Homo sapiens: one gene and its partners. The protein of the gene in region 1 interacts with the protein of each later gene in a pairwise test. Each region holds a gene or a part of one and is shown in the gene's direction. Other genes may lie near its edges.

Region 1 (3,749 bases):
AGACCCCCTGCAGCAGTCCAGGTAGCAGCTGGTGGGGCAGAAGCCCACTGAGGAGGGAGAAGGGGGTTGGCAGGATGGGGAACTGAGTGGCTAGAGAAGGGATGGCAAAAATTTGTCAAAGGCATCTCTGAGAGTTCCAAGACGTAGCGACTTTGTATATTAGAGCCACCAGGAGGGGAGGAGGAGAGAAGCTCAGTTTCAACATGTTGAGTTTGAGGTGCCCTTGAGGAACCCAGCTGGGAGTAAGGAGTTGACCTTGGGGATGACGCTGGAGCAAGATAATGGACTGGGGCTCACTGGCAGAGGGAAGGCAGGTATGAGCAGACGGGCACCAGGCTCTCAGAGCCCTGGCCTCCTGTTGAGGTGTCTTTGTTGACAGCTGGGGGACCTTGGGCATGCCATTTCACCTCTCTGTCCTCTCCTGTAAAACGGGCGTCATGATTTTTGCCTTGTAGGGGGGACCATGAGAATAAAAATGTTTTGAAAATAGCAAAGACATAACTAAGGTGAAGCATTACTCTCAGAGGGATAGTTGGAGCCACGGGGCGGGTGGCAGGCCAGGGCCCTATGGAAGGGGAGTAGGCAGAGGGAGGAGGCCGAGGCTGTGTGGCCAGGGCTGGATGTCCAGGCTGAGAGTGCCCTGGAGACAGGCTGTCTGTGGTTGGGGTGGGTTGGGCTTCTGTGAGCAGCTGCTGGGAGACGGGTGTCGGGGGAGTGTCAGGGGCCAGCGGGAAAGGCCAGAAAGGCTTGAGAGATGTAAGTAGTTGTCCAGTTGAGAGGGCAGCTGCAGGGACACCCTGGGAGGCATAACTGTGACCCGTGGGCACCCAGGGGACTTTGTTCTCTTGCCTTCTTCCCACCCTTAATATTATAATATCTGGGTTGTTCATCTGTGGGGAAGGAAGTGCTGCTGATCTTGATGGGAGGGAAACGTAGGCTCTAGCTCACCTTCTGGAGGCGGGGCACCAGGTTTGTACTGCAACCAGTGCCTTGGTCTGGTGGTGCGGCGCTGTGTAGCGGAAACCTGGCCCCTGAAAGTTCCTCCTCGCAGTGAGTGAGGCTGGGGAATGCCGAGCACTTGGTGCTGCCCCGAGCCCCTTTTTGGGCCAGCTCATGACTGAATGTGTGTGTTTCTGGGATGTGGGCTGGGGCCCCATTCTTGGGTGCAGCCCTTCTCCTTGCACTTCTCCTCCCAGAGCCTGCCAGTGGAGACACTGGGCCCGGCATCCAGGATGGACCCAGAATCTGAGAGAGCCCTGCAGGCCCCTCACAGCCCCTCCAAGACAGATGGGAAAGAATTAGCTGGGACCATGGATGGAGAAGGTACTGGGCCCTGCTTAGGACATAGCTTACCGGACAAAGCTATTCTCCATATTTTGGGGTTTCTCAGTTTCCTCAGAGAAAGGGAGGCTGGTTCGTTTTAGTTCCTCCATTAATCTCAGTTGACAAACTCCTTTTCTCATTCCATCCTGGCTTTTTCCTGCCTCTTCCAACCTGGTAGGGGCCCGTGGGATGGACAGAGGGCTGCAAAGGAAATTCAGCTGGGGCAGTGGGTTTTTCTGCGCCTTTTCTCCTACCGCAGGGACGCTCTTCCAGACTGAAAGCCCTCAGTCTGGCAGCATTCTAACAGAGGAGACTGAGGTCAAGGTGAGGAGATTTGCTGTGGGAAGGAAGGGAGGCGGGGAGGGCTAGCAGCTGCTCACTGCTGCATCTGCATTAGGGCACCCTGGAAGGTGATGTTTGTGGTGTGGAGCCTCCTGGCCCAGGAGACACAGTAGTCCAGGGAGACCTGCAGGAGACCACCGTGGTGACAGGCCTGGGACCAGACACACAGGACCTGGAAGGCCAGAGCCCTCCACAGAGCCTGCCTTCAACCCCCAAAGCAGGTGAGAGTCTTCCTTGCCTCTCCTGTCACTCTCCTTCTAGAAGGTATGGGAGAGGGATCAGCCATCACTACTGAGCACATGCTGTGGTCCAGGCCCTAGGGCTGAGCAGCTTGGTGCTCTCCTTTCTCACCACTACCCCTGGGACGTTGAGGCCCAGAAAGGTTGAATGACTTGACCAAGGTCACACTGCTGGTAAGGGGCAGGGCCCACATCTGGTTGACTCTTTCCTCTCTGCCATGGGGACCTCCTCTTTTCTTGCTTCCAGAATTCAACCCTCATTTCTGGAGTCCCTTCCTTGTGCTGGCCCTGGGCCTGGGCAGAGGGAAGATGGTTGGTTACCGCCTATGTAAGCGGCAGATCAGACTGAGCCAAGGTGCATATCAGACCTAAGAGTGGTACAGAACTGTAATTAAGGTACTCCCAAAGGAAGGAGAGGCCATTCAGTCAGGGGACTGGTTGAGGGCAAGGGAGAGGCTGGGACAGTGAGAGGTGACATTTGAGTGGAGCCCTGAGCACAGAGTAGGCTTTTGGTACGTAGGGCAGGGAAAAGAGAATGTTTTAGGCCAAGGCTGCAGCATCAGCAAAGGAGTGGGGACCACCTGTCTTGTGCTAAGGAGCTCTGTTCCAGGCTTGTGGCAGAGGAGTGTAGGAATTGGTCCCTGTTGAGTGACAGGATGGAGGGCCTGGGGGCCATTTAGGAGGCAACTGCAGTGGTCAGGCAAAGATGATGCAGACCTGGGCCAGGCATGGTGGCTCGTGCCTATAATCCCAGCACTTTGGGAGGCTGAGGTAGGAGGATTGCTTGAGCCCAGGAATTCAAGACTGCAGTGAGCCATGGTCATCCCACTTCACTCTAGCCTGGGCAACAGAGGGAGACCCTGTCTCTAAAGGAAATAAAAATAGGCGGCAGGGTGCAGTGGCTCACGCCTGTAGTCCCAGCACTTTGAGAGGCCAAGGTGGGTGGATCACCTGAGGTCAGAAGTTTGAGACCAGCCTGGGCAACATGGTGAAACCCCGTCTCTATTAAAAATACAAAAATTAGCTCGGTGTGGTGGTGCACGCCTGTAGTCCCAGCTACTTCCCAGCTACCTGGGAAGCTGAGGCAGGAGAATCGCTTGAACCTGGGAGGCGGAGGTTGCAGTGAGCCAAGATTGTGCCACTGCACTCCAGCCTGGGTTACAGAGGTAGACTCTGCCTCAAAAAATAAAAATAAATAAAATAAAATAAAATAAAATAAAATAAATAAAAATAAAAATAGGCTGGGTGTGGTGGCTCACACCTGTAATCCTCACACTTTGGGAGGCACAGGCAGGAGGGGCTGGGCTAGGGTAACCCACCTAGGCCAGGCGTCTGTCCTAGCATCCTCCCCCAAAAGGAATGTTTCCTATTTACCCACACATCCTGACCCTCCCCTCTCCCACTATAGTCAGGGCGTCTTCCCAGTTCTTGGTTCACATCCCTTGTGCTAAGGTTTGGGCCAGGGCTGGCATACCTGTTCCACATGGTACATGAAACATACATGGTATCACCTGTGATTGATTGGTGTGGTCTGCCTGGAGCACTGTGTGGAAAAGGATTTAAAGAACATGCCAGGTGCCATGATCAGTTAACACTGTTCCAGGTATGGGAGGTGGAAACAAGACTGTGAGAGCCACACATTGGCTATCCTTAGGTGAATCTAGGAAGTGTGTGCTTATATAAAGATGTAGATGCCGAGGCTCAGGATGGAATTTGGGGATCCCTGTGTCTCATTCATGATGGAGATGGGGTGGAGGATGAAAACCAAATCCTCTGGGTGTTCCAGGCAGGTGGATCACTTGAGCTCAGGAGTTTGAGACCAGCCTGGGAAACATGGCAAAACCC
Region 2 (3,749 bases), on another chromosome or scaffold:
ACATGGACTTTCAGACAACTTGGTTTCATACTTCTGACCTCCAGAAATGTGAGAAGATAAAGTTCTATTGTTCTAAGCCCCTAAGTTCGTGGTAGTCTGTTATGACATCCCTAGGAACCTAGGAACCTAATATAGAGAAATAAAGGCTATGCTTTTTATGTGGCATGATGGAGATGGCCCCAGAATAGTGAAAGGCCATGGCTCTTCTCCTTCCATTGTGTACACAGAAAAGAACACCCCTTCGAAAGCAAAAGCAAAGGCCAGGCACGGTGGCTTATGCCTGAAATCCCAACATTTTGGGAGGCCGAGGCGGGCAGATCACTTGAGGTCAGGAGTTCAAGGCCAGCCTAGCCAACATCGCAAAACCCCATCTCTACTAAAAATACAAAAAGAATTAGCCGGGTGTTGTGACTCACACCTGTAATCCCAGCTACTCAGGAGGCTGATGCAGGAGAATCACCTGAACCCAGGAAGCGGAGGTTGTGGTGAGCTGGGATGGCGCCACTGCATTCCAGCCTGAGCGATAGAGTGATACGTCTCAAAAAAAAAAAAAAAAAAAAGCAAAAGCGAAAGCAAAGAAAGATTCAAGGGCAGATTTGCAGTGACTTATCATGTCTACAGACTGGGAAAAGCTGGTAGAAAAGAGGAGGAAACCATTCTCAGGAAACTCTACCTTTCAATTCCTCCAGTCATGAGCTCCAGGGTTGGATGCTCCCGCAATGGCAAAACTCCGCTCTCGTTACTGTCATGGGGCCACCACCACCCACCAAGCATCAGCCCATCTTTCCATAATGTCAAGTCTAGAGTGACATTTGTCTAATGTTTGCCTACCTGGAGATGTTGCCCCGCCCACCACCACCAGCAAAAACAACCGGCACCCATCTTATACGGATAATTCCCTACCTAAGGAGTTCTAGAAATGCATGGCCCACCAAAACTCAGGGTGGGTCATGCATTTCTAGAGGAAGAAATGGTGATATGGAGAGAAAGCTTGTCCTAACCCACTTCTACCAAAGTAGGATTAAAGTCAATTTGAAAAAAAACACCCGTTTCTCCTTTTATATAAAAACCAAATGCAGAAACTATAGAGAAATGTAATAAGCTTGACTCTACACAAATACCAAAATACACTGTAAACAAAATTAAAGGTAACTGACAAATTGAGGAAATATTTGCAACGTATATCACAAGCCAAGTTTTCAAGCATCAAAAGTCCTTACAAAACCCATTTTTACAAAGATGAATGTCAAGTTTTAAAATGGACAAAAGACAGGAAAATGCAAATCACACAATAAGGACAAATGGCACTCAAGATATGGGAAAAAGTCTATTCTTCCTACTAAAAAGGAAGTGAATACAATTAAAGATGCCAATTTTTGACAATAAAATGGGCAAAAAAATTTTAAGAAAAAAGAGAATTTCCAATGCGGGCCAAGTATCGGGACACTTACTGGAAGGCAGTTTCCCTCTACCTTTAGAAAGCCTCAAAGTGAGCATATGCTTTGGCCCTGCAACCTCGCTTGTAGGAATTTATCCTAAGGAAACAGTCAGGGGTGACCTCAAAGATTCATCTGCAAGGATATTCAACATGGCTTTGATGCAGGAAAAAAAGTAAATAAATAAAAGGAAACAATGTAAGTCTTCCTAAATTATGCCAAATTCCTATGCTGTCATTAAAAAACATCTATAACTCCATCATCTAGGTGATTTTGACTTTTGCTTTGGACTTGCCTGTACATTTCTAAATTCTCTATGCCAAACATGCATTGTTTTGTCATCAGATTTTGTTTTACAAAAAAAAAAAAAAAATCGTCTTTATGACAAGGGGTTAATAGGGGAACTGTGCTTCCCAGGAATTGACCAGGCGTCTACACCCACCTACTGACTCAAGTTACCTAAGACTGACAGAGCCTTAAGAGGTCAGGAGAGCGCCAGAGCGCGTGACAGGCTCCCTCGTCTCGGTGCGGCCACGCGGGAAGGCAGGGTCCCGGGCGCCGAACAGGGACGGCAGGAGGATCGTTTACAGACGTCTACACAAGAAACTCACTTCCCGTCACCGAAGACAAACGCGAGGCCACACTGACCTCCAGGCCCAAGACGCCCCTCCCCGCCGCGGCTCCTGCTGCCCGAGTGCGCATGCGCGCGCCCAGCCCCCGCAGGCCGGCGCTTCCCAGGAGGCCCCGCGCGCGGGTTTCCATGGGGACGCGCCGGCGCTGCGGCGTTGGCGCAGTCGTGGGAACAGCGCGGAGCAGGTAACGGCCCCGCTGCTGCCGTCGTCCCCCTCAGCCGGTTACCCTGTTACAGCCCCAGCTCTGGGCCCTTCCGGACCCTCCTGCTACGCTCTTTCTGGGCTTCCAGTATCGCCGGTCACTCAGTCCTCGCCCCTGCCTGCCTCGCTGGCGCCCCGCCGTTTCCTCCTCGCGGCACAGTTTGCCAAGGAACAGCTACCCCGGCTCGGCAGTGACCGGGCGCCCCGGCGACACACGTACTCTCAGGCCCGCTGGGCAGGGGGACGGCCTGGGCCGAGGTGACCTAGCGCTCCCGGGGCCGCGCCTGGGTCTGGCGAGGGGGCGGAGGCCGATCTCACCGCCGCCCCACCGAGGGAACTTTGGGGTTTTTCTATCTGAATCTTCTATCTGACCTCCGATTTTGCCTCTGCTTACTTGCTGTTTTGCTTTGGATTAGTTTTTCTTTCTAACCTTAGCGCTGGCATCTCCCTATCTCGTAGGAATCTAAATCTTTTGAAATGTCTTCTCTGTCTGTGTTTGTCCCCCACTCACCCAGCCTCGGGGCTCTTTATCCACACCCTCCCCTCAGCGTGTTAACGTTTCGTTGCCACACTTAAGCCAACGGTTAACTTTTTTCAGAGACCAGTTTTCACGGCTGAATGTGAGCTTGAGCCTTTTTTCTGTCTACACTCAATCCCTAGATGAACTCATCCAGTCGCCTGTACTCAGAGCCTATCTGAATTCCAGTGAGCCCCAAGTGTGCATTCCCAGCCCTCGCCCCTCCCCTGAACACCAGATCCCTGCATTTAGCTGCCTGCCACATCCCTACTTGGATGTCTACGGCATCTCAAACACAGCTCGTCCAAGATAGCGCTCAATAATTCCCCAAGCCAAGCCTGTCCTCCCACAATCTTAATCCATCATAGTTGCTGGAAATTCCATCCTCCAGTTGCCCGAGTCTTGCATCCTGTTTGAGTCCTGTTTTTCTCTTCCTCACCTTCAGTCTGTCAGCACTGCCTTCAAAATGCACCCAGAATAGATTCACAATTCTACCATTTCTCTCAACCGCCACTGTCACCACCTTGGTCCAGGCCCCCATCATCTGGTGCGTGGATTATTTTACTTGCTTCCTAATTGGTTTCCCTGAGTCTGCCCCTCCCCCACTTGAGCATGACAGTCTTAATGGTATTTCCCCGTTCTCTGTTATTTCGTATGAGTAAGTTTTTTAAAGGATTATATAAATTACAATTTCCTTATATAAATTACAACTTCCATAGGTAAAAGTGCAGTATTTTCAGTATGTATTTTGCAAATTGCAACTTTTAAACCGGGTCAGCAAGGCCATATAAGCATCCTGCTAACAAGCTAAAAATGTAAAGACACCCCTTAGCTTTGTTAGGTATAAATATGACAGTGCCCCTGGAACAGAACTATGGCAAGAGCTTTACAAGGGACTGTCCTGAAGAACAAAAGAACCCAGAGCCTTCTTCCCAGCGCAAAGACAGGAATCATGTAGGAGTT
Region 3 (3,749 bases), on another chromosome or scaffold:
AAACCAGAGAAGATCTGCCTTCCTGAAAGAAAAATTAAGAAAGTTCAATCAGGAGAAGGTGATCACGCTAAGGTTAAGCTGGGCAACGTGCAACTTTAAGAAACACCACCCACACCCAAATAATTGCTACAGATGGCCTATGAATCACATTAGATAAACATGGACTATAGTATCAAATCTGGCATAAAAGGCCCTTAAACGAAAATTTTCTGGCTACGTCTCCTGAGGCAGAATAGGGTCTGGAGGCAGGGAACCTAACGCCGATTCACGCTGACTTCCTAGAACTAAATCAAAAGGTAAACCCCAAATTTCCACACCTAAGTAACAAAAGGACCAGCGGCTACTCCCTTTGCAAATCCCCACCTTTTCTGACAGGCAGATGGAAATTGAAAGTACCTCAACCAATCAGACTGATTGCGGGCCAAATCTTCCTTTGCATAGAAGTGCAACTAAGTAACATCACTTTAGCCAATGATTGGTTGCTTTCCACAACCAATCAGATGTTTGTATAGGAGTATGACCTTTGTCATTTTACTTCAGCCTCTGATTGGTTGCTTTCCATAACCAATCAGACTGATTGTGGGCCACCACTTCATTTGCATGAGGAGAACACCAGTGTCCAATGGGAAATCTCTAGTGGGTATTTGGACCTAAGAAGATTCTGTATCCAGTACACTGTGGAGCGTACTTTGGTTTTCAATGAATCTTTGCTTTTGTTGGTTCATTCTCTCCTTGATTTGTGCGTTTTGTCCAATTCTTTGTTCAAAAGAACCTGGACACCCTCCACCAGTAACACTCTTACCTCATTTCCTACCATTCTCCATTTATGGGATTATTTGCTTCAACCAAACCAACAGGCCAGGTGCCAGTGGCTCACACCTATAATCCCAGCACTTAGGGAGGCCAAGGCATGAGGATCATTTGAGCCAAAGGGTTTGAGACTAAGGTGAGCTATGATCCTCACTGCACGCCAGACTGGGTAACAAAGCGAGACCCCCCATCTTTAAAACAAAACTGCCCACTGCAGTCTTGGTCTTCATCTTTTTGATGCTCCCTGTAAGTGGCAGTCACTTCCGTAGGTTTGTGCCTCACATCTAGTAGTTGACATTTTATTTCATGTTTTAAAAACCTTTGGAAGACCAGGCGCGTTGGCTCACGCCTGTAATCCCAGCACTCTGTGAGGCTGAGGCAGGAGAATCGTGTGAGGCTGAGGCAGGAGAATCGCTTGAGGCCAGGAGTTCGAGACCAGCCTGGGGAAATAGCGAGAACTTGTGTGTATACACACACACACGCTTTGGAAGTAGGTCTTATTTCTCATTCTTCAGGGCATAAACCTCTCCCGTGCAGCAATCAAACTCAATCTTTGTTTTCCCAGTAAAAGCCTAGCAGAGTATATGGCACTTAGGATTAACAACAACAAAAAAAAAATTGTTGCTCAAGGAATGACGGAGTTATTATATAACAGACAGGACTAAGTAGGGATAACCTCAAAAGGACGCAACTTCTGGCTTTGTTTTTTTGTTTTGTTTTGTTGCCTCCTTTCTAAGATTTCAGTGCTCTAACTGCATCCTTGCACCACCGCGCGCCACCCCGAAATTGACGTCACAATCTGGACTAAAACTACCAATCCCAGAATGCCGAGCGAGGAGGCGGGCTCTCCGGAAGCCGCCGAGTGATTAGTGAGCGGAGAAGCTTTCTTCCGGCGGGAAGGGCCCCGGAGGCGGGCACTTGGGGGGAAAGTTGAGACGTGATTACCGGGTTGGGCGGGCCCCATCTGGGAGGGGTTTGTGGGTGAACTCGGGGTCCACCGCCCGCTGAGGAGATGGATGAGGACGGGCTTCCTCTCATGGGGTCAGGCATAGACCTGACCAAGGTTTGTAAAAGACGGTGCTAGACTCCCGACGAGCCGGGAGGAGGATGGGGAAGACGCAGCTTTCCGGGGAGACACCCACCTTCCGAGTCCCCACCCTGTCACGGCCTCGGGCCCTTGTGACAGGCCTGTGGGGCCTCAGGAGGGAGAGCCCCACAGTCCACCTTGAAATGGGGTCCCTCCTGAGCTGATTAAGGAGACGGTGTGCATCTCCCAACTGTCGCTTCCCATCTCGCTTGTCTCTCTGCCGCCGGCGACACACGCCGGTTGCGATAGCTAGCCCTACCTCTTATTCAGCCCCCAAGATTTTGTGTGTGTTTATGTGTGGTGCTTTTTGCCTGCCAAAATTCGTACCAGTGAGTCTAGAGCCTGTTCTCAAACTTTTGTGCACCTCTGTCATCTTCGGACACCCCACCCACAGCTTAGGAAACAAGTTAATGACTATTCCCAGTCCTTCAAGAAATTCATATCACACAGCAAAGTGCCTCGTGATTATGTCCAAATATGAAAAGATTTGCACTGTGTACGTTCCTCCTGTATGAACCATGTTTGTTTTTACGTAACACAGGTGCCAGCTATTCAACAGAAAAGAACGGTGGCTTTTCTAAACCAATTTGTGGTGCACACTGTACAGTTCCTCAACCGCTTTTCTACAGTTTGTGAGGAGGTAGGTCCGGTGATACTGGTTTATAGAGTCGCCTGGAAATCACCTTTCACTGCTGAGACTGACAAATGGAGTAAAACAAGAATTACAGTCTTTATTCATGTACCGTGACCTCTCATCACCCAATTGTGTTAACACATCTTAGGTTCTCTTTTACTCTGTTAAAATCAATCCTGCACCCCTCCTCTACTGAGTTAGTGTTCTAGAGGTCCCTGTGAGATAGGTCAGTCAGGCTTATTGCGATTAAAGGGAACAATAGGAAATCTAATTTTTTTTTTTTTTTTTTTTTTTTTTGTGAGACAGGGTCTCACTCTGTCACCCAAGCTACAGTGCAGTGGCGCGATCTCGGCTCACTGCAACCTCCACCTCCCGGGTTCAAGCGATTCTCCTGCCTCAGCCTCCTGAGTAGCTGGGATTACAGGCATGCGCCACCATGCCTGGCTAATTTTTTATATTTAGTAGAAACGGGGTTCCAACATGTTGATCAAGCTGGTCTCGAATTCCTGACCTTGGGCGATCCACTAGCCTCGGCCTCCCAAAGTGCTGGGATTACAGGCGTGAGCCACCGCGCCCGGCTTCTAAAATTTCACAGTTGAAAACAGTTTTTATTTTGCAATTTGTCATTCGTTCCCGTACCCCAAAACCACATTGTTTAAATTTATTTTACATTCTGGATCTAAAAGATGGCTAGAGGAGATAGCCTAGAAACATAACTTTGGCATCAAATATGATTATAGAAATGAAAATATTTTCTGCAAATGACTTGTGATGTAAGGATTAAGTACCCAACTAGGGATTAGGTACCAGAACTGGCACAGCAGTGCGCACCTGTAATCCCAGCTACTCGGGAGGCAGAGGCAGGAGGATCACTTGCGCCCGGGAATTTGAGACAAGACTGGACAACAGAGAAACTCAGTGTTTTGTTTTTGTTTTTGTTTTAAAAAAGAGGATTAGGTACTAGATCCAGGATCCAGGGAATCCCTGTCTTTTAAAAAGCCAAAAGAGGATGGGGAAGACAATGGGAACCATGGGTTGAAATTGCATTTAAGGAAAGAGCAAAGTAAATTATGGGACTTAGATATTCACAAGTAAGTCTGTTGAACATTCTGTCTTATGTAAGGTATAGCCTTAGCAATTAGAGTTTTTGTTAAGTGTGTTACTACTATTAATAAAAATTGCATGGAGATGGGAAAACTATTTTTTACTTGTATGAAA

The links.
Region 2: the proteins of PBXIP1 (region 1) and LCA5L interact in binary tests that used the Homo sapiens proteins (3 or more experiments, as listed by UniProt).
Region 3: the proteins of PBXIP1 (region 1) and WASHC3 interact in binary tests that used the Homo sapiens proteins (3 or more experiments, as listed by UniProt).

Annotation. Positions count from the first base shown.
Region 1 is NC_000001.11:154,949,369-154,953,117, reverse strand, and holds part of PBXIP1 (pre-B-cell leukemia transcription factor-interacting protein 1), read left to right. Parts: intron 1-1,196; coding exon 1,197-1,323; intron 1,324-1,582; coding exon 1,583-1,647; intron 1,648-1,720; coding exon 1,721-1,886; intron 1,887-3,749. UniProt on the Homo sapiens protein: Regulator of pre-B-cell leukemia transcription factors (BPXs) function. Inhibits the binding of PBX1-HOX complex to DNA and blocks the transcriptional activity of E2A-PBX1.
Region 2 is NC_000021.9:39,444,228-39,447,976, reverse strand, and holds the start of LCA5L (lebercilin-like protein), read left to right. Parts: upstream 1-2,198; 5' UTR 2,199-2,252; exon of another isoform or gene 2,253-2,527; intron 2,528-3,231; exon of another isoform or gene 3,232-3,333; intron 3,334-3,749.
Region 3 is NC_000012.12:102,060,036-102,063,784, reverse strand, and holds the start of WASHC3 (WASH complex subunit 3), read left to right. Parts: upstream 1-1,793; 5' UTR 1,794-1,822; coding exon 1,823-1,873; intron 1,874-2,438; coding exon 2,439-2,537; intron 2,538-3,749. UniProt on the Homo sapiens protein: Acts as a component of the WASH core complex that functions as a nucleation-promoting factor (NPF) at the surface of endosomes, where it recruits and activates the Arp2/3 complex to induce actin polymerization, playing a key role in the fission of tubules that serve as transport intermediates during endosome sorting.